Homo sapiens: one gene and its partners. The protein of the gene in region 1 interacts with the protein of each later gene in a biochemical or structural test. Each region holds a gene or a part of one and is shown in the gene's direction. Other genes may lie near its edges. The genes, in order: SRPK1, ABCF1, HMGN3, EIF3M, ARGLU1, TAF1B and OCEL1.

What was found.
Region 2: of the proteins of SRPK1 (region 1) and ABCF1, one has a biochemical effect on the other in vitro, tested with the Homo sapiens proteins (one large-scale study listed by IntAct).
Region 3: of the proteins of SRPK1 (region 1) and HMGN3, one has a biochemical effect on the other in vitro, tested with the Homo sapiens proteins (one large-scale study listed by BioGRID and IntAct).
Region 4: of the proteins of SRPK1 (region 1) and EIF3M, one has a biochemical effect on the other in vitro, tested with the Homo sapiens proteins (one large-scale study listed by BioGRID and IntAct).
Region 5: of the proteins of SRPK1 (region 1) and ARGLU1, one has a biochemical effect on the other in vitro, tested with the Homo sapiens proteins (one large-scale study listed by BioGRID and IntAct).
Region 6: of the proteins of SRPK1 (region 1) and TAF1B, one has a biochemical effect on the other in vitro, tested with the Homo sapiens proteins (one large-scale study listed by BioGRID and IntAct).
Region 7: of the proteins of SRPK1 (region 1) and OCEL1, one has a biochemical effect on the other in vitro, tested with the Homo sapiens proteins (one large-scale study listed by BioGRID and IntAct).

Annotation. Positions count from the first base shown.
Region 1 is NC_000006.12:35,914,599-35,918,098, reverse strand, and holds part of SRPK1 (SRSF protein kinase 1), read left to right. Parts: intron 1-3,500. UniProt on the Homo sapiens protein: Serine/arginine-rich protein-specific kinase which specifically phosphorylates its substrates at serine residues located in regions rich in arginine/serine dipeptides, known as RS domains and is involved in the phosphorylation of SR splicing factors and the regulation of splicing.
Region 2 is NC_000006.12:30,570,077-30,574,241, forward strand, and holds the start of ABCF1 (ATP-binding cassette sub-family F member 1), read left to right. Parts: upstream 1-1,365; 5' UTR 1,366-1,411; coding exon 1,412-1,484; intron 1,485-4,165. UniProt on the Homo sapiens protein: Isoform 2 is required for efficient Cap- and IRES-mediated mRNA translation initiation. Isoform 2 is not involved in the ribosome biogenesis.
Region 3 is NC_000006.12:79,210,683-79,214,182, reverse strand, and holds part of HMGN3 (high mobility group nucleosome-binding domain-containing protein 3), read left to right. Parts: intron 1-3,500. UniProt on the Homo sapiens protein: Binds to nucleosomes, regulating chromatin structure and consequently, chromatin-dependent processes such as transcription, DNA replication and DNA repair.
Region 4 is NC_000011.10:32,590,331-32,593,830, forward strand, and holds part of EIF3M (eukaryotic translation initiation factor 3 subunit M), read left to right. Parts: intron 1-3,500. UniProt on the Homo sapiens protein: Component of the eukaryotic translation initiation factor 3 (eIF-3) complex, which is required for several steps in the initiation of protein synthesis.
Region 5 is NC_000013.11:106,554,638-106,558,137, reverse strand, and holds part of ARGLU1 (arginine and glutamate-rich protein 1), read left to right. Parts: intron 1-1,006; coding exon 1,007-1,090; intron 1,091-3,500. UniProt on the Homo sapiens protein: Dual function regulator of gene expression; regulator of transcription and modulator of alternative splicing. General coactivator of nuclear receptor-induced gene expression, including genes activated by the glucocorticoid receptor NR3C1.
Region 6 is NC_000002.12:9,932,695-9,934,916, forward strand, and holds the end of TAF1B (TATA box-binding protein-associated factor RNA polymerase I subunit B), read left to right. Parts: intron 1-1,088; coding exon 1,089-1,290; 3' UTR 1,291-1,722; downstream 1,723-2,222. UniProt on the Homo sapiens protein: Component of RNA polymerase I core factor complex that acts as a GTF2B/TFIIB-like factor and plays a key role in multiple steps during transcription initiation such as pre-initiation complex (PIC) assembly and postpolymerase recruitment events in polymerase I (Pol I) transcription.
Region 7 is NC_000019.10:17,224,878-17,229,025, forward strand, and holds the start of OCEL1 (occludin/ELL domain-containing protein 1), read left to right. Parts: upstream 1-1,348; 5' UTR 1,349-1,370; coding exon 1,371-1,439; coding exon of another isoform or gene 1,440-1,476; intron 1,477-1,815; coding exon 1,816-1,992; intron 1,993-2,097; coding exon of another isoform or gene 2,098-2,116; coding exon 2,117-2,322; intron 2,323-2,962; coding exon 2,963-3,128; intron 3,129-3,378; coding exon 3,379-3,432; exon of another isoform or gene 3,433-3,438; intron 3,439-3,925; coding exon 3,926-4,048; 3' UTR 4,049-4,131; coding exon of another isoform or gene 4,132-4,148.

The DNA of each region.
Region 1 (3,500 bases):
CAAGCCTCAACTAAGGTAACTTGACTCTGTTCCATGACTTCTGACTGCACTCCTGATGACTTCCATTTACTTTGCTAAGGCAAGCTGCTAGTTACAGGAGGTGAGTCAGGAAGAAGATTTGAGGAAGAAGCATGCCATAGAGTTTGGTCTTTGGAGATAGATGTGGTTTTGAATTCTGATTTTGCTACTTTTTAGCAATCTGACCTTAGACAAGTTAGTTAAGGAAACAGTCTTATGTATATATCCTGACTGGCAGTTCAGTCATAGTGAAAACTGATCAGGACCTAAAGATATAAAAACAAAGCGTTTAAATGAAAATTTTAGAAAGTTTTGGAACTGTTACAGTAAATAGCATCCTTAGTAATTTAGTCGTGTTGTGTCACAGGCAGAAGGGATTTTCAGTCCCCTGGTACTGCAGATCTTAAACCCAGGGTCTTGAAGCTGGTGACAGAAGAACCAAAACTTGGAATTCAGGGTCCCTTTCCAGCTCTGTGTTTGTTAGAGTGGATTTCCTTTGGGTTCTTTTCACTGTGCTGGAGTATTTGACTTTGGGATTTTAAATTTTCTTATTTAGACAATTCTTCATTTTACTTTTGTGGACGCTGTGCTTTTATTTACTAACATTAACTAGTTGGTGATGATCTCCATTTTACTTTACAGATAAGAGAATTGAGGTTTGTCAGATTACTCCCCTAGAAAATTGCAAAGCTGGGATTTGAACCCAGGTCTGACATACCCAAAGCCCTGGCTACCAATCATGTGTTTCTAAGTGACAGTGCTTTTGGTGTGTCTTACAACAGGTAAGGTAGAAGCTGAGTTGAAAGAGGCTTCTGAATGAGAGACCTCTGGATGCTTGGGGGTTTGGGTGCCCTTTCATGACATACTGTCCTGTGTCTATGAAACAGCACAATCATCTATCTCCCTCTGAACATTTGTTTTCAGTGTTTATACCAATAGCTGTGAGCCTTTATTTGTTTGTCATAAGCTTTTATAATTTAACAGTGTGTGTCTGTTTTTGTTTTGTTTTGTTTTGTTTTTTGAGACAGAGTCTCACTCTGTCACCCGGGCTGGAGTGCAGTGGCGCATTCTCAGCTCACTGCAACCTCTGCCTCCCGGGCTCAAGCCATTCTCCTGCCTCAGCCTCCCAAGTAGCTGAGATTACAAGCACCTGCCACCACGCCCGGCTAATTTTTGTATTTTTCGGGGTAGAGACAGGGTTTCACCATGTTGGCCAGGCTGGTCTCAAACTCGACCTCGAGTGATCCACCTGCCTTGGCCTCTCATAGTGCTGGTATTACAGGTGTGAGCTACCGTGCCTGACCTATATGTCTGTTTTTGAAGTTGTTTCTATGGAACATAATTCCAGAATGGATTTCATACTTACTGATTTTATTACTTACCTTAGGAAGCTGGTTTGGACAGTAATTTTCACTTTATTTGCAGTTAAATAATTATGGATTTAGTATACATTTGGTAGTAAAATTAATTCAGCTCTAACACTGATTTGTGGAGTCATTTGGGAGATATATTGAAAATTTACTTGAATTTGGCCACAAATTAAAAAAAAAATTTACAAGAGAAAATACTTAAATATCTAACATTTTTATTCAGTAGGAAGTAGAGCCAGTAAATTTGAAACAATTTAAAAAATGAAATAGTATTTGATGCTTTTTACACTTAGCAGTGCACCTTGGAAATTGGTTCTATATTCCATATAGTGCAGCCTTACTATTTTTTTTAGGGTCTGCCTTTTTCACTGAGTCTTAGAAATAGTTCCATGTCAGGACAGAAAGAGAACCTCATCTAGCATTCCATTAAGTTGATATGCCATAATTTAATTAATTAATTAATTAATTTATTTATTTATTTATTTGAGGCAGAGTCTTCGCTCTTGTCATCCAGTCTGGAGTGCAGTGGTGAGATCTCAGCTCACTGCAACCTCAGCCTCCTGGGTTCAAGCGATTCTCCTGTCTCAGTTTCTCGAGTAGCTGGGATTACAGGCACATACCACTGTGTCCAGCCAACCATAATTTATTTTAATTTTTATTAATAAACGTGTGTGTGTGTGTGTGTGTGTGTGTGTGTGTGTGTGTGTGTGTGTATATATTTTTTTTTTTTTTTGTTTTTGAGACAGAGTCTCGTTCTGTCGCCCAGGCTGGAGTTCAGTGGTGCAATCTCGGCTCTCTGCAACCTCCGCCTCCTGGGTTCAAGTGATTCTCCTGCCTCAGCCTCCAGAGTAGCTGGGACTACAGGTGTGTGCCACCACGCCCCACTAATTTTTTGTATTTTTAGTAGAGACGGGATTTCACCGTGTTAGCCAGAATGGTCTCCATCTCCTGACCTCATGATCCGCCCACCTCGGCCTCCCAAAGTGCTAGGCTTACAGGCGTGAGCCACCGCACCTGGCCTGTATATACCTTTAAAGACAAAAATGGAATCACTGGGCATACTTTTCCCTAGTTAACATTATCATGAGTATTTTTCGTGTATTAAATATTCCACTATGGGCTGTTTCCAGTTTTTCACAATTAATTCACAGCTATAGTGAATAATCTTTTGGACAAATCATTGCTTACATCAGTGATTATTTCCTTAGGATAAATACTTCGAATGGTATATACATTTAAAATATTTTTAGTTCATTTTGTCAAAATTTTGTCCAGCAAGATTTTTCTTTTTTTTTTTTTTTTTTGAGACGGTGTCTTGCTCTGTCGTCCAGGCTGGAGTGCAGTGGCGTGATCTCGGCTCACTGCAAGCTCCCCCTCCCGGGTTCATGCCATTCTCCTGCCTCAGCCTCCCGAGTAGCCGGGACTACAGGCGCCCGCCACCATGCCTGGCTAATTTTGTTTTTGCATTTTTAGTAGAGACGAGGTTTAACTGTGTTAGCCGAGATGGTCTCGATCTCCTGACGTCGCGTTCTGCCCGCCTCAGCCTCCCAAAGTGCCAGGATTACAGATGTAAGCCGCCATACCCGGCCTTCCTCCAGCAAGATTTAACAGGTTTGGCCGGGCACAGTGGCTCAAGCCTGTAATCCTGGCACTTTGGGAGGCTGAGGCAGGGGGATCACTTGAGGTCAGGAGTTCAAGACCAGCCTGGTCAATACAGTGAAACCCTGCTTCTGGAAATACAAAAATTAGCCAGGTGTGGTGGCAGGTGCCTGTAATCCCAGCCACACAGGAGGCTGAGGCAGGAGAATCGCTTGAACCCGGGAGGTGGAGATTGTAGTGAGCCAACATCGTACCACTGCACTCTAGCCTGGGCAACAAAGCAAAGTTCCGTTTCAAAAAAAAAAAAGGATTTAACTAGTTTAACTCTTATTCATTAAACAAATAGTTTTTGATCTCCCACCCTGTCCCAAGCATTGTTTTCCATATTCGGGATTCAGCAGTGAAAGAAAAACATTCCTGTCCCGTTGGCTACTATATTATTATAGTGGGAGGAAAGACAGAATAAACAATAGACATAAATAAGTAAATTAAATAGTATATTAGGTGATAGGT
Region 2 (4,165 bases), 5.3 Mb from region 1:
TTTAGGAGTAAGAACAAGAGCTCCATTTTGTACGTATGAGAGAGATTTATTAAAGATCTCAGAGAAGATGTCCCATAAGCAGTTGAATTCATGAGCCTGGAGCTCGGGGCAGAAGTTGGGGGCCAGCAAGAGAAGTTTGGGAATCTTCATTGGTTATAGATGGTATTTAAAGTCAGGAGGTGATAGGTGATAAGTCTAGATTAAGGAGAGTGTCAAAGATTTAGCCCTGAGGCACTTCAACATTTAGACTTCAGGAGAAGCCCATTAGATGCAAAGGAAACCTATAGAGAGTAGTGTCCCTGAAGAAAACAAAGGAGGGAGGGAGCGACCAAGTCTATCAAACATTGATGGGAGAGTGAGTAGGATGGCCCCAGATCTGTTGACTTTGGCAAGTGTGAATTCAGACAATGGTGGCAACAAAAGCATGATTGTAGTGGTTTGAGAGCTGACAGAACTACAGGAGCACCTTGCTCAAGCTCCCATATTAAGTGGTAGAGTTAGAAGTGAACCAAAGTCTTGATTGTGGTGATAGTTTACTGGGTTTATGCAGGTCAAAACTTATTTAAGTGATACTTTGCAGTTTATTTTGGGTGCCATTTTATTTTGTGTACAGTTTATTGTATGTCAATTATATCTCAGTAAAGCTGTTACCAAAAAAAATAAATGAACCGAAGCTCCACTGCACCGTGACTTCTGCATGTTGGGCTCCAGTTCCCTGTTTACAATTGTACACTTCGGGATTTTGTGACACATTTCAACACTGGACCGATCAGACCTCTCCCTTAGCCATTGGTCTGCACTGTCTTTTCTGCCCATGACCCAGTCAGTCTCGCGCCCCATGACCCTCTCCTAAAACACGCGCAGTCTCCTCTCTCTTCCCCTTCCTCTCGTGTCTTCCTTGCCTACCAGCCTCACCTGATGGGCTCGTGTTCTCTCCGTCCCCGATCCACTCGGGCTCCGGCAGCTGCTGCTTGGGCGCCTTCGGCATCGCGGTGGCAGAACTAGAAACGAGTTACAGATAGAAACTAGAATATGCTTTTTAAAAAAACAAAAAACAAAACAAACAAAAAAACAGTATGCCTCAACTCCTTCATACTAGTAGGAAATTATTATGTTCATTCCTTGAGTCTCGCGGCGTCGGGAGGTCACGGCGTCAGGCTTCCCAGACAGTCGTAAACGCCATGTGTTTACGCGACTGGAGCAAGCGGACGCCGGCCCCGCTCCGTCATTGCAGGCCACGCCTCCACTGAACCAGGGCCACGCCCCCGAGATGACGGCGAAGCTCGCACGTGCGCAGCCCGGGGGCGGGGTTGGCCGCGCCAGCTTGGAGAGCCAGCCCCATCGGGGTTCCCCGCCGCCGGAAGCGGAAATAGCACCGGGCGCCGCCACAGTAGCTGTAACTGCCACCGCGATGCCGAAGGCGCCCAAGCAGCAGCCGCCGGAGCCCGAGTGGATCGGGGACGGAGAGAGCACGAGCCCATCAGGTGAGGCTGGTAGGCAAGGAAGAAACGAGCAGAGGGGGAAGAGAGAGGAGACTGCGCGTGTTTTAAGAGAGGGTCATGGGGCACGAGACTGACCGGGCCCCTGCGGGAGTTACTGCGCATGCGTGCCGTGGGCCCGGGAGGAGTTTGCCGGGGAGGAGTGGGTTTGGAATCGGGGTTAAAGGAAAGAGATCCAGATGTCGCACGTGACCTAAGTGAGACTGGGCGAGATAAAAGAAAGAGCATATGGCACCGAGGGAGAGATGGGGAGAAATGGGAAAACCTTGCTTAAAAAATTTGGACATCCGCCCCACCATACACTGTATTCCACCAGGAATATATGAGCCCTGCCTCGACCTCCCCTTCCCCCTGCGCGCGCATACACACACCTTGGGAGCCTGTGATCCCCCTTGTTTCTCAAGAGAGGGTGACTCCTTCATGGTTTCTTTCTTAAGACACCCCTCTCACTCAACTGGAGCAAGAGTGTAGATTTTTGATGTTGGAATGAGGGTTAAGGTTTACTTAAAAAGCAGCGAAAGTTTGTTAAGCGCTTGTTTTTAATTAAGCACTCTATATACTGTGCTTTGAGAGGGGAAGGAAAAAAACATGAAGATATCCTCCCAGGGTTGAAGTCAGTTTTAAGGGGGACATAAATGGACACAACTAACCCCAGTAGGTACACAGTAACTAATTTTAAAAGCACTTATTGGATGCCTACTGTATACCAGGTACTGTGTGGAGGAAGTGGGAATGTAGAGATAAAAGATAAGACTTTCCCTCAAGGGACAACCCAGTATGGTGAAGGGTCAGAGCATTAACCAGACAGACAGTGGTTGTCAGAGTATGATGAAGGTGCTTAAGAATGTTATGGGACTGTAGAAGAGAGGAGGAGCATCTACTCAGACAGGTAAGGGAGTGTCAGCAAAGCCTCCCAAGAATATGTAATAGCTGAGTATTTTTTTTTGAGGCACATTGTAGCTCCATCACCCAGGCTGGAGTGCAGTGGCATGAACATGGCTCACTGCAGCCTCCACCTCCTGGGTTTAAAGGATCTTCCTGCCTCAGTCTCCCAAGTAGTTGAGACTACTGGCATGCACCACCACACCTTATTTTTAAAATTTTTTGTAGACACAAGATCTGGCTATGTTGCCTAGGCTGGTCTCAAACTCCTGGGCTCAAGTAATTCTCCTGCCTCAGCCTCCAAAAGTGCTGGGATTACAGGCGTGAGCCACTACATCTGCTCCCCAGAGTTTATTCTTGAAAGATCATCGTGAATTAGCAAGGGGAAGCGCATTCCAAGCCAAGGAAGTTTGTGGAAGGTAGAGATGTAGGCAAGCCTGACTGGTCCCACTAGAGCCTGGTGACTAGTGTGATGAAGTCAGAAAGATGCTCAGGAGACAGATAATGAAAGGCTTTAGATGCCATTCCGAGGAGTTTAATCCTAAAGACATTAAGAAGGAAGGCCCATTGAAGTGCATAAGGAATGATTATGAACAGTTCACCTGTAGCACTGAGCAATGGAGAATGAATGGCCTTGAACTGGTCAAGATGGAGGCGGGGAGACCATTTAGGGGGCTCTGGCCATGATCTAGGTGAGAAGTGGTAAGGGGATAAGCCAAGGCCTGAAGAATAAAGAGTTACTAAGGAGGCGGCATTGATCGGAACTGAGAACTGATTAAATGAAGGGAGAAGTAAGGTTGACACTTAAGTAACCCAGTGACTAGTAGACTATTAACTGAAAGCAGTAATGGACAGGAGAGTAAGAAGTGGAAAGAGATAAGGTGAACTTCTGAATGCTGAGTTAGGCGTTTCTGAGGATTTCTAAAAGGAAATGGCAAGAAGAGAGTTTGTTTAGTCACTGTGGAGAGACAACTATACTAGGAGTAAAGACACAGGCAAGTAGAGTTGAAGTGCTGGATATGGAAGAGTCCCCTAGAGAGTGTTTGCAGATTGAACCAAAAAGAAGGTTAAAGGTGGGAACCCTAAAGAACTTCAGCAATTGCAGGAAGCAGGTGGGGAAGGAGGCTGAAGAGATGAGACTGAGAAAGGCAAACAGCCAGAGAAACTGGAGGCAAACCAGGAGTGAGCAAGATCCCAGAAATTAAATAATGATAGAAGAGAATAAAAAAGGTGTGGAGGTAGGCAGCATGGAATGCTGCAGAGAAGTCAGGCAAAATAAGGACCAAAAAATACTTTGTGGTTTGAGGAGCTAAGGGTTCAGTGGCAACTTTGGCAGAAGTAGTGTTCATTCGGAGATGATACCAGATTGCAGTATGTTTCAAAGGTATGGGAGAAGAGAAAGTGAAGCTTGTGAATTACGATTTTGAGACCCAATGAGGACAAGAATACGAAACAGTAATGGGGGAGAGGGGTATAAGGGTAAAGAAGGCTTGCTTTCTTGCCTTGAAGGAGCAGCTTAAGCGATATACGAAAGGAGAGAAGACACAGTATATCTCTAGCCACACTTAATCTTTTTCAGTTCCTTGGGGATTATACTTTCTCACAATGAAACTCTTCGGAGGCTTTTCCTGTCCCTATAATGAAGTGGATAAGAGTGATTAAAGTACAAAAGATTTTTTTGGTTTTGGTGGGTTTTTTTTTTTTGTGACGGAGCCTCACTCCAGGCTGGAGTGCAGTGGCGCGATCTCAGCTCACTGCAGCCTCAATCGCAGGCTCAAGCCATC
Region 3 (3,500 bases), about 43 Mb from region 1:
CACAATATGTCAAAATATTAAAGCTTTTTTTTAAATTGGGAACACTCAGGATATTGGGATAATTAATTAGGCAATGATTCAAAGATGTTTTGTTTTAAAATTCAGAAACCTCCAAAAGTCTAGAAACTTGGAAGAGATTCTTGGATTTGACCATCCACAGTTATTATTATGAACCTCTAAAAAAAGATGGGCTAAACAGTAGGAAAAGAGATATAACTTTGATGACAACCATTCCGTTTGCACAGGGCTTTAGAATAGGTGGAAAACTGCAGCTGTTACCCTTGAACTTATCAACTAAAAGGGGTCATGGGTGAGACAAAAACAATATCTAGTTACAGGTTCTTTGATTGGGTGATTCATAATGTGGTTAATAATTCAGAGGAGTTTATCGTGATACCAAAACCCCTGCACAAGATTTGTACAAGGAAATTCATTCTGCCAAGTGGAAAATCTTAAACAGAACCTATAAAGAAATAATTTAAAAGCAAAACAAAACAGTCTGTCCCCATCATCCATGTACCTAGCATTCACTGTTTGACAGAGTTTGGAATAATCATGAAGTTTGTTATCCAAAACAGAGTCATCACACACATGCAAGAACCAACCAAAAAATGATAAATGCTTGAATTTTCTTGGGAAATGGCAAAATGTGATTTTTAGAACAGTTGGCTAAGTATAACTAACCTTAAATGTTTTTAAGATTTGGACACCAAAACAAAAGCATTTGGGTTTTTCCTTAGGGACTGGCATTTAAATTGATTTGTCAGTCAAAAAACCTAGAAACACCATGGCACCCAGTAATCTTTGATTGTCTTTCCAATCCCACTACACCAAAAGTAAATCAAGCTTGTGAGAATGTATATATAAAGGATATGTGTGTGGTTTTGCTTGTACAGCTGTCTTATACATATTATTTTATTTTATTTTATTTTATTTTTTGAGATAGCATCTCACTCTGTCATCCAGGCTGGAGTGGGTGAGGTGGCAAGATCATAGCTCACTGCAGTCTCGATCTCCCTGGCTCAAGTGATTCTCCCATCTCAGCCTCCAAGTGGCTGGGACTGTAGGTGCATGCTAGCACACCTGGCTAATTTTTTTATTATGTTTTTATTTTTAATTGTTATTTTTATATTTTATTTTATATTATTTCTATATATTTTATGTATTTTTGGTTGTTAATAAAAATGGTTTCTAGATAAGGCTCTACCTGTCATTTAAGCCAAGGCCAGATTAAAACTCATGATAATGTCTTCAGGACATCAACACAGTTATTTAAAAAGTGAAAAGGTCAGTTAGTTTGCTGATGGTTTCGGGTAAAAACTGTCAGTGTATTGATTGATTGATTTTTTTTCTTTCCCACTGGATTGACTGAATTTTCCAGTTATGTCATTGAGTATGCACCACCTTGACTTTAGTGAATAGATAACAGTTACTAAGGGGGATTCTCTTTTGAAAATCCTCTTCCACTGCCATATTAGAAGGCATTGTGCAGAAGATAGTACTTCAGGGGACTTGGACAGTAAATAACCAAAATAATACATTATAGTCATTACAATCAACAGTTACAAACCCTTTTACATCCATTATTTTGTCTGGTCCATATAGTAACTCTAAAATGAGAGGAAGGCAGATTATTCCTCAACGAAAACATATAAGCACCTATAATGCGCCAAGCACTGTTCTAAGCTCTCCAGATCCCACAGTGAACAAAAGAAGCAAAAATCGCTGCTTTCATGGAGCTTCCTTTTAGTGGGAGAGAGAGTAAAATAAAATGATTGAATATTAGCTATGAAGAAAAACAAAGTAAGGAAGGAGAATAGTGAATGTCAGAGAAGTGCTATTTTTGAGGACAGATTGACAGATGTTATCCCTATTTTAACTAGAGCAAAGTTCTCAGAGAAACATGATTTTCCCTGGGTGTTAGAACTTGTAAATAGCAGAACCAGGAAAGATATCTGCATCTCCTGTTCCAAAATCCGCTATCCCTATGGCCCTTTTATGACAGTCCTAAAAATCTGGTAATCCAGTATCCATTTTTCTGTCTTGTCTATTCCCAGCCAAGGCTCTGAGGTACAAACTTTTCTACTTCCCAGTTTTGAAAAAAAGGCAATTTCTTTTTAGGCATTTTTTTTTTTTTTTAGAATTAAAAGCAACTTGACTTTTGGGTTTTGCTTGGAGGTACATGGTCAGGCTCAGGAGCAACAACATCTCATAAAAATAAAAATACTCCCACATTCCAGAGGAATAGTCCATGTGTTTCAAGCAGTATCCAGCAAAGTGCAGTGATTCTATTGAATCTAGCTATCCCTGTGTACTTTGTCATTGGGAGATTAGACTTCTATGTTGCTTTTGCAACCAGGATATTAAAGTAGAAGATTTCATGTCTTTCAGAATAGGCTTCACCAGAATTTTCTCCAACCTAAAGGATGATCATGCCTATGGGATGATGCCTATGGGATAATTCCACTGTGACCAGCACCTATATACCATAGTGGCAAACCCTCACATTTGTCGTATCTGTTTGTCATATTTATCAATGATGACTTTTCATTCTAAAAGCCCTCCTTCCCTCCCTGAGAGCTAGTAAAATAATTGGATATTGGCAATTAAGGAAAACAAAGCAAGGAAGGGAAATAGCGAATGTCAGAGAAGTGCTGAGGAGCAGTCTCTGGACCACTTTTCCTGAGGATTCACAATTAAAAAAAAAAAAAAAAAAACAAGAGAAATTCTTAATAGCTTTTTTTTCCCCTCGTAGTCCCACCCAACAATCTGAGTCTCAAATGAGTACTTCACATGTTAGTGTTTTAAAAAGGAAAAAATAGCAGTCTAATCTATTTCATATCCAATAAATATAGTCCAATAATTTACAGATTTTAAGGCTGTGAAAGCTGATAGAACTTTCCAGGAAGGTGTCCATACTTGTATGCATAATCAGTACTGCTGACTGAGTGAAAGGTTCATCTCAGCCTCCACTGTTTGCAGTGAAAACGAAAATCTCTTATGATAGCTACTGGAAAAGAAAATGTAAGAAAAGTCTTTTTTAATGGCATAGAAAGAAGAGCTGGGAAATTGTATGTAGCAAGTCATAAAATGATTTTATAATAGAAGATAGGATTTTTAGGTACTGGCTGGTTTAGACAGCTTAGGCATTTTTTTTTTTTTTTTTTTTTTGCATTAATTTCCGAGGCTTTTTATTTTGGAACTCCTGTACTGGACCTGAATTTTTAAAAGGTATTAAGTCCTTTGGATCAGAACAGCTGTTAGTCCCAGTAGAGCAGTGCTTAGATTGGAATGTCTCTGGAAATCCCAAAGAGCTCTCTGGCATCACTTAGTCTATTTGGTATGTTCAGGTCTTCACATGGAGAGGAACAACATTGTCGCAGCTGGGGAACTTTTCACATGATTTTGCCTCACTTCATGGAGATTTTATTCAAGACAACTAGATGGCAGATAGGGAGGCAGTTTTGAGTAATGGCTAACATGTTTGGACCCTTTTCAGG
Region 4 (3,500 bases), on another chromosome or scaffold:
CATATAGCTTGCAAAGCTTAAAATATTTACTCTCTGGCCCTTTATAGAACGTTTGCCTACCCCTTGTCTAAGTAGTCTTACTATAGTCAGCTTCATGTCTCTGCCAGAAACACCCCTCTCATATTTCGGTTAGTGCCTCCCTTTTACAGCACCCTCTACTTGTATCCTAGCATTTAACACCCTTAGTTGAAAGTAAGGTTGTAGGCTAAGTGAAGGCAAGGAACCTCATCTGTAAACCATTGCATTCCCAAGAAGATAGCACTTATTGGGCACTGAGTGGATAAATGCTACCCACAGTAGGGAACTGGAAGGGGATACTTGTTTAAACACGACATTTCTGACATTCTGCCAATCTAAATGTTGAGAGTTGGTTTTCTTCTTTAGAACACATAAAATACATATTTTAATCAGTAAAATTCTGAGATTTTACCTAGCAGTTAAGTAAAAATGCTTCAAGTTTATGGGTGCCCCCTTCATGACTTTATTTATATTGGTGGTTGATGCACATGGTGTTTGTTGTGCTTTTTTTTTTTTATTTGAGATGGAGTCTTGCTCTGTCGCCCAGGCTGGAGTGCAGTGGCGCAATCTCAGCTCACTGCGAGCTCCACCTCCCGGGTTCATGCCATTCTCCTGCCTCAGCCTCCTGAGCAGCTGGGACCACAGTTGCCGCCGCCACGCCCGGCTAATTTTTTGTATTTTTAGTAGAGACAGAATTTCACCGTGTTAGTCAGGATGGTCTTGATCTCCTGACCCTGTGATCCTCCCGCCTCCGCCTCCCAAAGTGCTGGGATTACAGGCGTGAGCCACCGCACCAGGCCTGTTGTGCATTTTAAAGGGTGTTACTGGTAACTAAGCCCTTACATGTCAGACACCATGCTGTGTGCTTCAAGTGGATTAAAAAGATTTCTTTAGCTGAGAAGGTTGAAGTATACTGTAGTTGCTAAAACTGGAAAATGACTTGCACCTGTGCTTACAGTGTGGCACAAGATAACTAATGAGTAAGATGTGGTTTTTTAAAAGTTTTTCTTTGAATTTTTATAGTTAAGTCATTATACTTTTTAATTTTAATTTTTATTGCAAAGTTAAAAATTCCTTAGTTTTTTATTCCTGGTACCACTACACTACCATAATTTACAGGGTAACATGCCTGATGTAATGAAAAGAAAAAGGCAAAGGTACAACAGATAAAAGACCTCAGGAATGTACATCTAATTGACACTACACTGCATTAATCAATAGTGCACTTTTTGCAACCTGTAGCTATGACAGTCCTGAACAAGAAGGCTTTCCTGTTTAAGCTGCAGTAACTTTTCTGACTGTGGATCATCATTCCTCTGTGGCAGATTTTTACAGTTCCTCTAATGCATTTGGATGATTGCCTCAAAGTAACTTGCAGCTTTTCTGACTTCTCCTTGCTTGCACTCCTGCCAAAAACTGTAGCCCTTTTCTGCTGTTTTTAGAACCTTGTGCTACCATATTTACCACCATAGAGACTGCCCAAGCTTTATCCACCAAAACTGCCCCCTTTCATGCATGGGTCCATAATTTGGTTGTCATTGTCCACTGTAATATCCAAAATCATTATAGTTCCCACCACCACCGTAATTACCACTCCCCAAATTACCTTCTTCATTGTAACCATCATATCCTCCACTGCTGCCACCATATCTACCACCACCATACCCGCCTCTACTATCAAAACCAGGACAACTGCGGTAGTTGCCACCATCACCTTCAAATCCATTATATCCAGCAACCCCTCCTCCATAACTACTTCTGCTGCCACCACCCCAGCACCATATCCTCCTCTTCCACCAGAGTTTCTACCCATGGCCAAAACTACCATCTCCAAAGTTTCCTCCACAACCCATAAAGTTGCTAGATCCACTCCACAACTGCATCTGTTGTTTAAAAAGGGCCCTTTTCACTTCACTAACGCCTGTTAATAGAGTGTTATTTCTGAACCACAATTTTATCATGATCATCAAAAGTTACAAAAGCAAATCCTCTCTTTTTTCCACTCTGCCAGTCCTCCTGTAACTTCTGTGGTTTCAATCTTGCGATACTTTTCAAAGTAGTCTCTCAAATTATGTTCTTCTGTATCTTCTTTAACATCACCAACAAAAATTTTCTTCACTGTTGGATGGGCACTGGGCTTTACAGAACTCTCTCTAGAAACAGCTGTCTTTGGTTCCATTGCACTCCTCAGCCTTGTGTGGTTGAGCACACATTGCTGCATCCACCTCTTCAACACAAGAGTAAGTCACAAAACCAGAGTTTGTGGAACATTTTGTTTGGGGGTCTCTGATTACCACACAACCTGTGAGTGTGCTCCATTTCTTAAAATGTTCTCTAAAACTACCATCTCTAGTTTCAAAGCTCAGACCACCAATAAACAGTTTTTTTTAGCTGCTCTGGCTCCTTTGGATCATGGCCTCTTCCAGGTTGAGTTCAGTATTAATTTTTTATTTTTAGAGACAGGGTCTGACCATGTTGCCCACACTGGAGTACAGTGGGTATTTGGCTGTTCACAGGTGCAATTGTAGTGCATTACAGCCTTGAATTCCTGGGCTCAAGCAAGCCTCCTTAGTAGGTGGGACTATTGGCATGCGCCACTGTGCCTAGGCATTTATATCACTACATTTAAGATGCGGGTTACCACTTAGCCATGCCTACAGTGGTATTTCTGAATCTTAGTAAACCTTAGTTTTGAAAGAAGTTTTAGATAGCATTTACCATTTTAAAATAAATGATACAGTTCCTGCTGATTTTGCCCAGGCTAAACTCAGATGTGGGGAGTAAGTATTTTTAGAAAATGAAAAAAGGAAAAGAAAAACCTCTTCCTCCTAGTTAGCAAAGCTTTCTATAAGCTGAAGATTCCACAGTTTAAAGAAGTCATGAGGAGTAAAGATAAACATTTTCTAAAAGTCCAGTTTGAATGACTGCATTTATTTATTTTGCCCTATTTACTCCAGTGAAACTGATGTATATAACTGTAAGAATAATTTAATTGGAAGGGTATCTTAAGTAGAGTTATTTAAATATTTGGTATTGTCTCAACTTCAGCCATACTGTCCTAACAGTTTCTGGGACACAAAACTTTTTTTGCGCCTAGGGCCTTTATACTTGGTTTTCCCTCTGCTTGGAAAGTCATCTTACCCCACCTTTCATGAACCCAGCTCTTTTCATGGCCAAGAAAAGGATATTTTACATCATTTTGGTCTCAGCTTACTTGCCATCTCTTCTGAGGGAGACTGCTTTCCCACTGTACATAAAGCGGCCTTTCCGTTTTCTGCCCTTGTTGCTTTGATTAAATCACCATTTATTTCCTTCATAGCACTTATTAGTTACTTTTCCTTAGTTGTCCATCTTTCCTACTAAAAGGAAGGTTTTATGACTTTTCCCATAGACAGGGACTTTGTCTCTCTTAGTCACCGTTATAATGTCATCAGCACAGTACCTGCCTCTTAAAAATATTTTAAATGAATGAATAGCAGTAA
Region 5 (3,500 bases), on another chromosome or scaffold:
TAACAATTTTTTTTTTACACGGACACAACCCTCTGACAGTCTTTCCAAATATTAAAATCATTTGAATATGTATGCTGTGATCTGAACACTGCTCAAGCCATCAAGCAGTCTTCATACAGTTTGCATTATAAAATCTCATTAAATTCTCCAAGAAAAAATAAGTTGAAGAATTTTATTTCCTGACCATGCATCCCCTGGATTTCTGAGTTTCAGTTCAGATTGTAGATGACAATATAAGCTGCCTTCCGAAATTGTCAACATCTGAATGTTAAGTCCATTTTCCCCATGGAAGAAGCCCGTAGTTCCATGAAGTATGGATTACCATTTGTATTTTTCACTAACAGTAAATGTATTTTTCTTATTAATTGTTTGCCTTAGGAATGATGAATTACATTTTTTGTTCCTTCTTACCATAAACATCTGCATTCCTCAGCTCAGCCTTCCTTGTATGTTGTTTCTTTATAAATGGTTGAGCTGCTGATGCAGGTATTGCCAAGCTAACAGTACAAATCATTTTAAAGAGGAAGCTGGCGCGTATGGCAGCCGAGGAGCACACTCTGCAGGACACTGGACAAGACAGTAAATATTCAACTTTTAATGCTGATTAAAGGAGTATAGGTAAAGAATACGTAGGTATACATAATTGGTGAGACAAATATTCACTTTATTTATATTTTATATATTATTTTTTTAATTTGGTAAATACTATCCAGTTTTGTAGTTGTCCTTGTTGATTTGTGTGATATTAAAGTATTAGTAATAATTGCCAGGAAACTATCATTAGGGAGGGTTTAGTTGGTTGCTGTTTGGACTGGGAGGGATGATTTAAATTTAGTGCTAGAAACCAATTTTAGTGACTGCACAGTTTATCATTTGTCAGACAGAAGGTAGCTATAAAGCTACCCTGTAAGTCATATCAAAAAAGTTCAGAGGAAGATTAGTAAATATTTATCAATAAAAATAAACATTTTGTTTTTCTAATATCTTAACATATCCTCCCCTTTAGGAGGAAGAACGTGCAAAACGTGAGGAGCTAGAGCGAATACTGGAAGAGAATAACCGAAAAATTGCAGAAGCACAAGCCAAACTGGTAAGTGTAAAGCATACATGAAAAGTGTTTTGTATTTTGCTTTATTTCCTTTTTTCGGATTTTGTGGATTGATTTTTGTGCCCTATAATTTGACTTATTTTGGGGGGATTCTCAGGACTAACTTTAAAGGCTTTTTGAGGCAAGGATAGGAACAATTGAGATTTTTCCTTCCAATCTGGACAGAACTCCAAAATTTGCAGTGATTTTAAAAAACAAGTTTTCTGGGGAAATTATTTTGTTCTCTATCCCCAGTTTTTTCTTTCCTAACCTCATTCACATTCTCCTATGCCTAAAAAACTAATAGCAACAACAAAAGCTTGGGGGTATATTTAAACCAACTATAATATGCAGCATTTTACTTTGTATTAGTTGGCTTGTTACCAGGAGTAGATAGTATTTATTTGATAGTAAGTGCACCGGAGTAATTTCCTATTCCTAGTTTATAATCTTAAGAAATACAGAGTCTTCGGTAATTATATAATATAGAAAGATGGGGGTGGGGGAAAGCAAGTTGTAAGCTCCAGTTACATGGTATAAAGAAATTTTGTGGTTATAAATGTACAGAAAAATATCCAAGTGGGTCTGAGTAGTTAACAGTGGATCCCATTGAGAGTAGGGATGAAGGAAGACCATAAATAACCTTAATAAGAATGTAAAAAGTTAATACGGGGCAGTTGTTTCTGGAACATCATCTTCTGAAAAATAGAGTACTCTGGATAAGAGATAATGCTAGAAATATTCCAGATAACTTAGTGAGCATGGCACAATGGATTCTTGGTAAATATCACCTGGTATTTGTGAAGGCCATAATGGAATCTATTGGAAAGCCATAATCCGCTTTCCCGAAGAAAATCTTAAAATCTGCTAAGGCAGAAAAAGCAATAGGAATGTGAAATGGATGAGTCATTCTAAGTTATATTGCTGCATGCTTATGAATAAGTATGTGATAACTTTTTTTTTTAGTTATTCTGGGATTCCATATAAGGAGAGAACCTCAGTGCAGATAGGAAGAAGAGGGAAAGTGTTCAATCTGAATTTGAGGTTAGAAGGTTGAGCTTTGAAGGGTAAATACACTCTGGTTTGTGAGGCATGGATGTTTCAGAAAAGAAGAAAAAAATATGGTTGACAGTTAAATCACTGAAGCAAAATTACTGAGCAGGTGGAACTGGACCTCCCATTAGGACATGTTAAAGAGATTGGATAGCTGTGGTGGGTTCATTATGTGGGTGGCCTGGAAGCTTGGTGTGCCCAGCCAAGATCTTGATCCCTTCTGACCCTGTGGTAGCTAGGGACGGCTTGGCCTCCTTGCATTCTTACAGTCCTCTATTATTTGCCCACATGAAAAATAAAAAATATGACTTTCGGTGTGTGATCACTGGAAAAAATATTGGTAGTCATAACCTAATACTTCTCAAATGGTAGTAAAAGTTCTGTTTTTGTTTTTTAATCCCAGTTTGTCTCAGACCTCTACTTTCGCAAAATACAATTAAGATGAATTACTAGAAAAATGAGGTCATATTGCTGTAAAAACTTCTAAAACCCTTAATATTGATTTGTCCTTGTTGGGGATTGATTAGTTTGTAGATTATAAGTGGTCTGTGGGCCATGCTTTACATTAGCACTTTTCTAGATCATACAGATTTAGATTTGATCAGAGTGACACTATTCTTGCTTTGTTTTGTTTTTGAGACGGAGTTTTGCTCTTGTTGCCCAGGCTGAAGTGCAATGGCGCAGTCTCGGGTCATTGCAGCCTCCACCTCCTGGGTGGGTTCAGGCTATTCTCCTGCCTCAGCCTCCCGAGTAGCTGAGATTACAGGCACCCACCACCATGCCCGGCTAATTTTTCTGTTTTAGTAGAGATGGGGTTTTACCATGTTGATCAGGCTGGTCTCGAACTCCTGACCTCAGGTGATCCACCCGCCTTGGCTTCCCAAAGTGCTGGGATTACAGGTGTGAGCCACCGCTCCTGGCCCAGAGTGACACTATTCTGATGGCATGCTTGTGATAAACTTCAGTAAAAAACATATCTTAGGGAAAAAGAGGCTTGGATTTGAGAAAGTTGAGTAAGAATTTGAACATATTTAACATGTTTGCTTATAGTGTTCAATAAAGTTGGGAGCGTAGTAAATTGATACTGGAGAAATTTTTTTTTTTTTTCTTTTTTTGATGGAATCTCGCTGTGTTGCCTAGGCTGGAGTGCAGTGGCGGAGTCTCGGCTCACTGCAACTTCCGCCTTCCAGATTCAAGCAATCCTCCTGCCTCAGCCTCCTGAGTAGCTGGGACTACAGGTGCCCACCACCACACCTGGCTAATTTTTGTGTTTTTAGTAGAGACGGGGTTTCAGTATGTTGGCCAGGCTGGTCTCAAACTCTTGACCTTGTGATCCACCCGCACCGTCCTCCCAAAGTGC
Region 6 (2,222 bases), on another chromosome or scaffold:
CTTTCTTCAGAGCTGTCAGACAGGGACGTTTAAGTCTGCAGAAGTTTCTGCTGCCTTTTGTTCAGCTGTGTGCTGCCCCCAGAGGTGTAGTTTACAGAGGCAGCAGGCCTTGCTGAGCTGCAGTGGGCTCTGCCCGGTTTGAGCTTCCTGACCGCTTTGTTTACCTACTCAAGCCTCAGCAATGGTGGACGCCCCTCCGCCTGCCAGGCTGCTGCCTCGCAGGTCAATCTCAGACTGCTGCACTAGCAGTGAGCAAGGCTCCGTGGGCGAGGGACCAGCTGAGCCAGGCTCAGGTTATAATCTCCTGGTGTGCCGTTTGCTAAGACCATTGGAAAAGCGCAGTATTTGGGTGGGAGTGTCCCGATTTTCCAGGTACAGTCTGTCATGGCTTCCCTTGGCTAGGAAAGGGAAATCCCTTCCCAGGTGAGGTGATGCCCCGCCCTGCTTCGGCTCACCCTCCGTGGGCTGCACCCACTGTGCAGCCAGTCCCAGTGAGATGAACCAGGTACCTCAGCTGGAAATGCAGAAATCACCCGTCTTCTGATCATGCTGGGAGCTGCAGACCAGAGCTGTTCCTGTTCAGCCATCTTGTAACGGAAGGCTTTCCTATTTTAAAATAATGGAAATTGCTTGGTAAACTCTTCTCTCACAATACATATAGTATTGCAAGCTACATTATAAAGTCTAGTGTCTTATTTTGGGTGGAAGTCAGGAATTATTTGTTTTCTTTAGTTTGTTTTAGAAATATGTTCAGAATCTCTCCCTGTGTGCTTTTGTTTGCCTTGACCATGGTAAGAAAGTGGAGTGGTGGCCCATCTGGAGTGAAGAAACTTTGAGCAAAGAGTTGAAGGACCAGCTCTTAGCACCACCTGTGGCCCTTGTGTGGTGGCCATGGACAGTGTGAACATGTTTTCCTTTGTGCAGTTAAGGAGTTAACAAATTCTTCTAAGTTTCCTTCCAGCTCAGGGTCCTGTTTTAAGCCTAACCATATATATTTGCTAAGTTATTTGGGGGGATGTTCAGGGGTTAGTGTGTGCATTTCTTGGTTACCATCTAAAGATAAATTCTTTTTTCTTTTTCCCTTCTAGCTATTGTACACATGTGACAACCTATGAAGAATCAAATTATTCTCTGAGTTATCAGTTTATACTAAATCTCTTCTCCTTCCTGCTCAGAATAAAGACTTCCCTTCTCCATGAAGAAGTGAGCTTAGTTGAGAAGAAACTTTTTGAGAAAAAATACAGTGTAAAAAGAAAGAAATCAAGATCCAAGAAAGTGAGACGACATTGAGAAAATGAAATAGAAACTTTCTGGAAAAATATTTTAATAGTGATAATAACATCAGATTTTAATATAACATTCCAGAGAATTGTGGAAAATACTGCATATATATGTATAGACTCTGACACATATTTACATATATATCAAGTGTGCTTAGAAAAATGTATATTGTAAAGCAGGTGAGCTTCATTTGATTTTATTTTTCAGAGTATGAACATTCTAAGAGAAAGTTAAAACAATAGCAAATTGTATAATTGTATCCAGAAATGTATACTCATCGTATTTTAAAGCTAAATTTATTTTTTAAACTAGATCCCTTCATTATTCTTTATGCCCCAGAGTAAATCCCAGATGGATCAAAGATCTAAACATAATCTTTCATATGTAAAAATATAAAAGTATTAGTAGAAAACAAATATGAATGCTTTGATGATCTTGGAATGGCAAAGTCAATTTTTGCAGCATATGGTGGACAAAGAAATAATTTCTTTAATGTATCAATAGCTCTTGCAAAGCAAAAGGAAAAAAGCAAACTGAGTAAGGGATATGAAAAATTAGTTTTCTGAGGCCGGGCGCGGTGGCTCACACCTGTAATCCCAGCACTTTGGGAGGCCGAGGTGGGCGGATCACGAGGTCAGGAGATCGAGACCATCCTAGCTAACATGGTGAAACCCCGTCTCTACTAAAAATACAAAAAATTAGCCGGGCATGGTGGCGGGCGCCTGTAGTCCCAGCTACTCAGGAGGCTGAGGCAGGAGAATGGCGTTAACCTAGGAGGCGGAGCTTGCAGTGAGCCGAGATTGCGCCACTGCACTGCAGCCTGGGTGACAGTGCAAGACTCTGTCTCAAAAAAAAAAAAAAGAAAAGAAAAATTAGTTTTCTGAAGGCCAAGCCAAAAAACATCATAGGATACTCGACCTCACTTATACTCAAGAAATACA
Region 7 (4,148 bases), on another chromosome or scaffold:
GAGACAGAGCGAGACTCCGTCTCAAAAAAAAAAAAAAAAGAAAAGAAAGTACAGGTGAGGGAATCCGTTATCATGCCAGTGCCGCCAAGGTTGTGGGAAAACCCCTGTATCTCTTGGAGCATAAATGGTACAATCTCACTAAGGAGTAACTTGGCAGTATGTTCCAAATGTAAAATACACACATCCCAGACAGGAGGCTGAGGCAGGAGGATCGCTTGAGTCCAGGAGTTGGAAAACAGCCTGGACCCATAAGGACATTTCCTCTCAAAAAAAAAAAAAAAAAAAAAAAAAAAAAATGCCAAGCACGATTATGGGATCACACCTGTAATCCCAGCACTGTGGGAGGCTGAGGCGGGTGGATTGCTGGAACTCGGGAGTTCAAGACCAGCCTGAGCAACGCGGCGAGATCCCGTCTCTACAAAAAACACAAAAATTAGGGAGGCGTTGTGTCACCTGTGGTTCCAGCTATTTGGGAGGCTGAGGTGGAAGGATCAATTGAGGCTAGGAAGGAGGTCGAGGCCACAGTGAGCCATGATCATGCCCTCCAGCCTGGGCAACACAGCCTCTCTCTCTCTCTCTCTCTATATATATATATATAAAAGGCCGATTTGGGGCACACTGTCTATAAGTTAGCTCTGCTCTGCCAGGAACAGTACTGTTCAGTAAAGATGCCATCTAACACCACCTGCTCGCCCTTAAAAGAAATAAAAGAAAAAGAAAGAAAGGGGCGGGTGCGGTGGCTCACGCCTGTAACCCAGCACTTTGGGAGGCCGAGGCAAGCGGATTGCTTGAGTCCCGGAAGCTGTTCAAGACCAGCCTGGCTAAAATGACGAAACTCCGGGCGGGCGCGGTGGCTCACACCTGTAATCCCAGCACTTTGGGAGGCCGAGGCGGACGGATCACTTGACGTCAGAAGTTTGAGACCAGCCTGGCCAATGTGGCGAAACCCCGTCTCTACTAAAAATACAAACAACAACAACAGCAAAAAATTAGCTGGGCGTGGAAGTGTGCGCATGTAGTCCCAGCTACTCGGGAGCCGGAGGCAGGAGAACCGCTTGAACCCGGGAGGCGGAGGCTGCAGTGAGCCGAGATCACGCCACTGCATTCCAGCCTGGGCAAGTGAGACTCTTGTTAAAAAATTTTTTTCATATAATTGCTGAAAAAAATAAATAAGTTTAAATTTGCAAAACCATCCCGTTTTTTCAGACAAACTTGAGGGTCGAGGTCGGAGTCGACCATGTTTCGAAGGTGTGTGGCCACGCCCAGCCAGGTCAGCCCCGCCCCCAGGCCGTCAGGCCCAGCCCCCTTTCGTCAGACCCCGCCCCCAGCCCTGCTGAGCGACCCCGCCAGTCGGGTCCATCCTGCAGTAAATGCACAACCCGGACGGAAGTGCCTCTCCGACAGCAGATCCAGGCTCGGAGCTCCAGACGCTGGGACAGGTGACCCGGGGCGGTAGCGAGCCGGACGGCCTTGCAGGTGGGGCGGAGGTCCCGAGGAGCTCCTCGGGCGCGGTCGTCTGTGGGCTCTGCGCGCCCTGGAGGTCGAGGCTCCGGCAGCGCGGGGGTTAACTCGAGCCGGTCCCAGGCTGCGCGGCGACGTCAGAGTTCATTTACATAGCGCTTATTTGGGTTGCGCAGTCGTGGGCGGGGTCTGGACGTCGCTGCGGACCAATCGCGTGCGTCTATGCAAATAGCGGTCGTTCTGGGGAACTCTGCTCCCGCGGGGTGAGAGTTGGCCGCTCTTCGGCCGAGCTGCCCGCGCGTCCTTTCTCCGTGCGCGTCGTCAGGCGTGTCCTCTCCGCGTGTCCACCCACAGGCCGCCCGCAGACCACCCCCGCCGCGCGCGGGACACGACGCCCCCCGCAGGACCCGCCCATCAGCCCGGAAACCCCTGAGCTGCTTCTCCCGGAGGCCGATGCCCACCCGGGAGCCCCCAAAGACTCGCGGCTCCCGGGGGCACCTGCATACTCACCCGCCTGGGCCTGGGCCCCCGGTGAGCCTGACCGGGAGGGGGTCCCCAGGCCGGGCCTCTAGGCAAAAGATTTAGCCCCTCCAGTTTGAGGGACTCCGGTTTCCCGACACCCCGATTTAACTCCAGACCACGATTCCTGTGGCAGCTGCAGGGACTGGCGCCCCGAGGCCTCAAAACCAGCGCCCCCCGCCCTCCGTGCCAGCCCCAGCCGGGACCCCACAAGGCAAAGACCAAGAAGATTGTGTTTGAGGATGAGTTGCTCTCCCAGGCCCTCCTGGGCGCCAAGAAGCCTATTGGAGCCATCCCTAAGGGGCATAAGCCTAGGCCCCACCCAGTGCCCGACTATGAGCTGTGAGTGTCCCCCATGTGATTCTTCATGCCTGGGATCAGGAGAGGGGCACTGAGGCTGGGGCTTTGATAGTTGAATAAGAGTTTACCAAAGAGTAGAAAGGAAAGGATCCCTTGCTGATCAGTAGTGGGATTGTCCCTGTGAATAAGCCACTGCACTCCAGCCTGGGCAACACAGTGAGATCCCGTCTCCGAAAATAAATAAATAAATAGGCGAGGCGCGGTGGCTCATGCCTGTAATCCCAGCACTTTGGGAGGCTGAGGCAGGCGGATCACCTGAGGTCAGGAGTTCGAGACCAGCCCGGCCAACATTGTGAAACCCCGTCTCTACTAAAAACACAAAAATTAGCTGGATATAGTGGCGCATGCCTGTAATCCCAGCTACTGAAGAGGCTGAGGTGGGAGAATTGCTTGAACCCGGGAGGTGGAGGTTGCAGTGAGCTGAGATCGCTACACTGCACTCCAGCCTGGACAACAGAGCAAGACTCTATCTCAAAAAATAATAATAAATAAATTAAAAGAGGGAGAGAAAAGGAACGTTTCTAGTAGGGGCCCAGCATGGACAAAGAAAAGCAAATTACACTGACTGGGGGAAAGAGTGGGGTTCTTTACACTCACACTCTGACCCTCTTCAACCTGGTAGTAAGTACCCGCCAGTGAGCAGTGAGAGGGAACGGAGCCGCTATGTCGCAGTGTTCCAGGACCAGTACGGAGAGTTCTTGGAGCTCCAGCACGAGGTGGGGTGTGCACAGGCAAAGCTCAGGCAGCTGGAGGCCCTGCTGAGCTCCCTGCCCCCACCCCAAAGCCAGGTCAGCACTAGGGAGAAAGCCCTGCCCCGCAGCCCTTCTGAGTGGCCCGACCCAAGCCTCTGGGACACCCACTGGGTCCAGATTTCCAGGACTCTTTCTCCTCTCGGTTGGCTGGGCGCCGTGACACATGGCTAAGGTCAGCCCTTGAAGTCCCCACTAGATGGGCATTTAGTCTGTCTGAGCCTCAGTTTCTTCATCCCTTCTTGAATTCAACTCTCCCTAAACCCCCTTTCTACTCCTCCCCTTGCAGAAGGAGGCCCAAGTTGCAGCCCGGGTTTGGAGGGAGTTTGAGATGAAGCGAATGGTGAGTCTTGCATCCCACAGCTTGGTCTTGCACCCCTGAGACTTCTGTGAGGCTGGGGTGCCTGTGCCCAGTTTCTTTTTTTTTTCTTTCTTTTGAGACAGAATCTCGCTCTGTCACCCAGGCGGGAGTGCAGTGGTATGATCTCAGCTCACTGCAACCTCAGCGTCCCGGGTTCAAGCGGTTCTCCTGCCTCAGCTGGGATCACAGGCGCCCACCACCGTGCCTGGCAAATTTTTGTATTTGTAGTAGAGATGGGGTTTCACCATGTTGGCCAGGCTGGTCTCGAACTCCTGACCTCAAGTGATCCGCCCACCTCGGCCTCCCAGACTGCTGGGATTACAGGCATGAGCCACCTTGCCCGGCTCACCCGGTCGCCTGTGCCCAGTTTCAAGGAGAGAAAATTGAGGCTCGGAGAATGAAAGGCAGAGAGTTAAGCAGCTTGAAGGCCACAGGGCAGACTGCTGCAAAGACTTCCGGGTCTCGCCCTGCCTAGGATCCTGGCTTCCTGGACAAGCAGGCTCGCTGCCACTACCTGAAGGGTAAACTGAGGCATCTCAAGACTCAGATCCAGAAATTCGATGACCAAGGAGACAGCGAGGGCTCCGTGTACTTCTAAGTGCCCCTGCAGATGGGCAGAGGGATGCATGGGGATGCAGGTCCCTTGCATTTCTTGGTATCTCTCAGCTTTTCCTCTTGCAGCTCCCCCTACCAGGGGT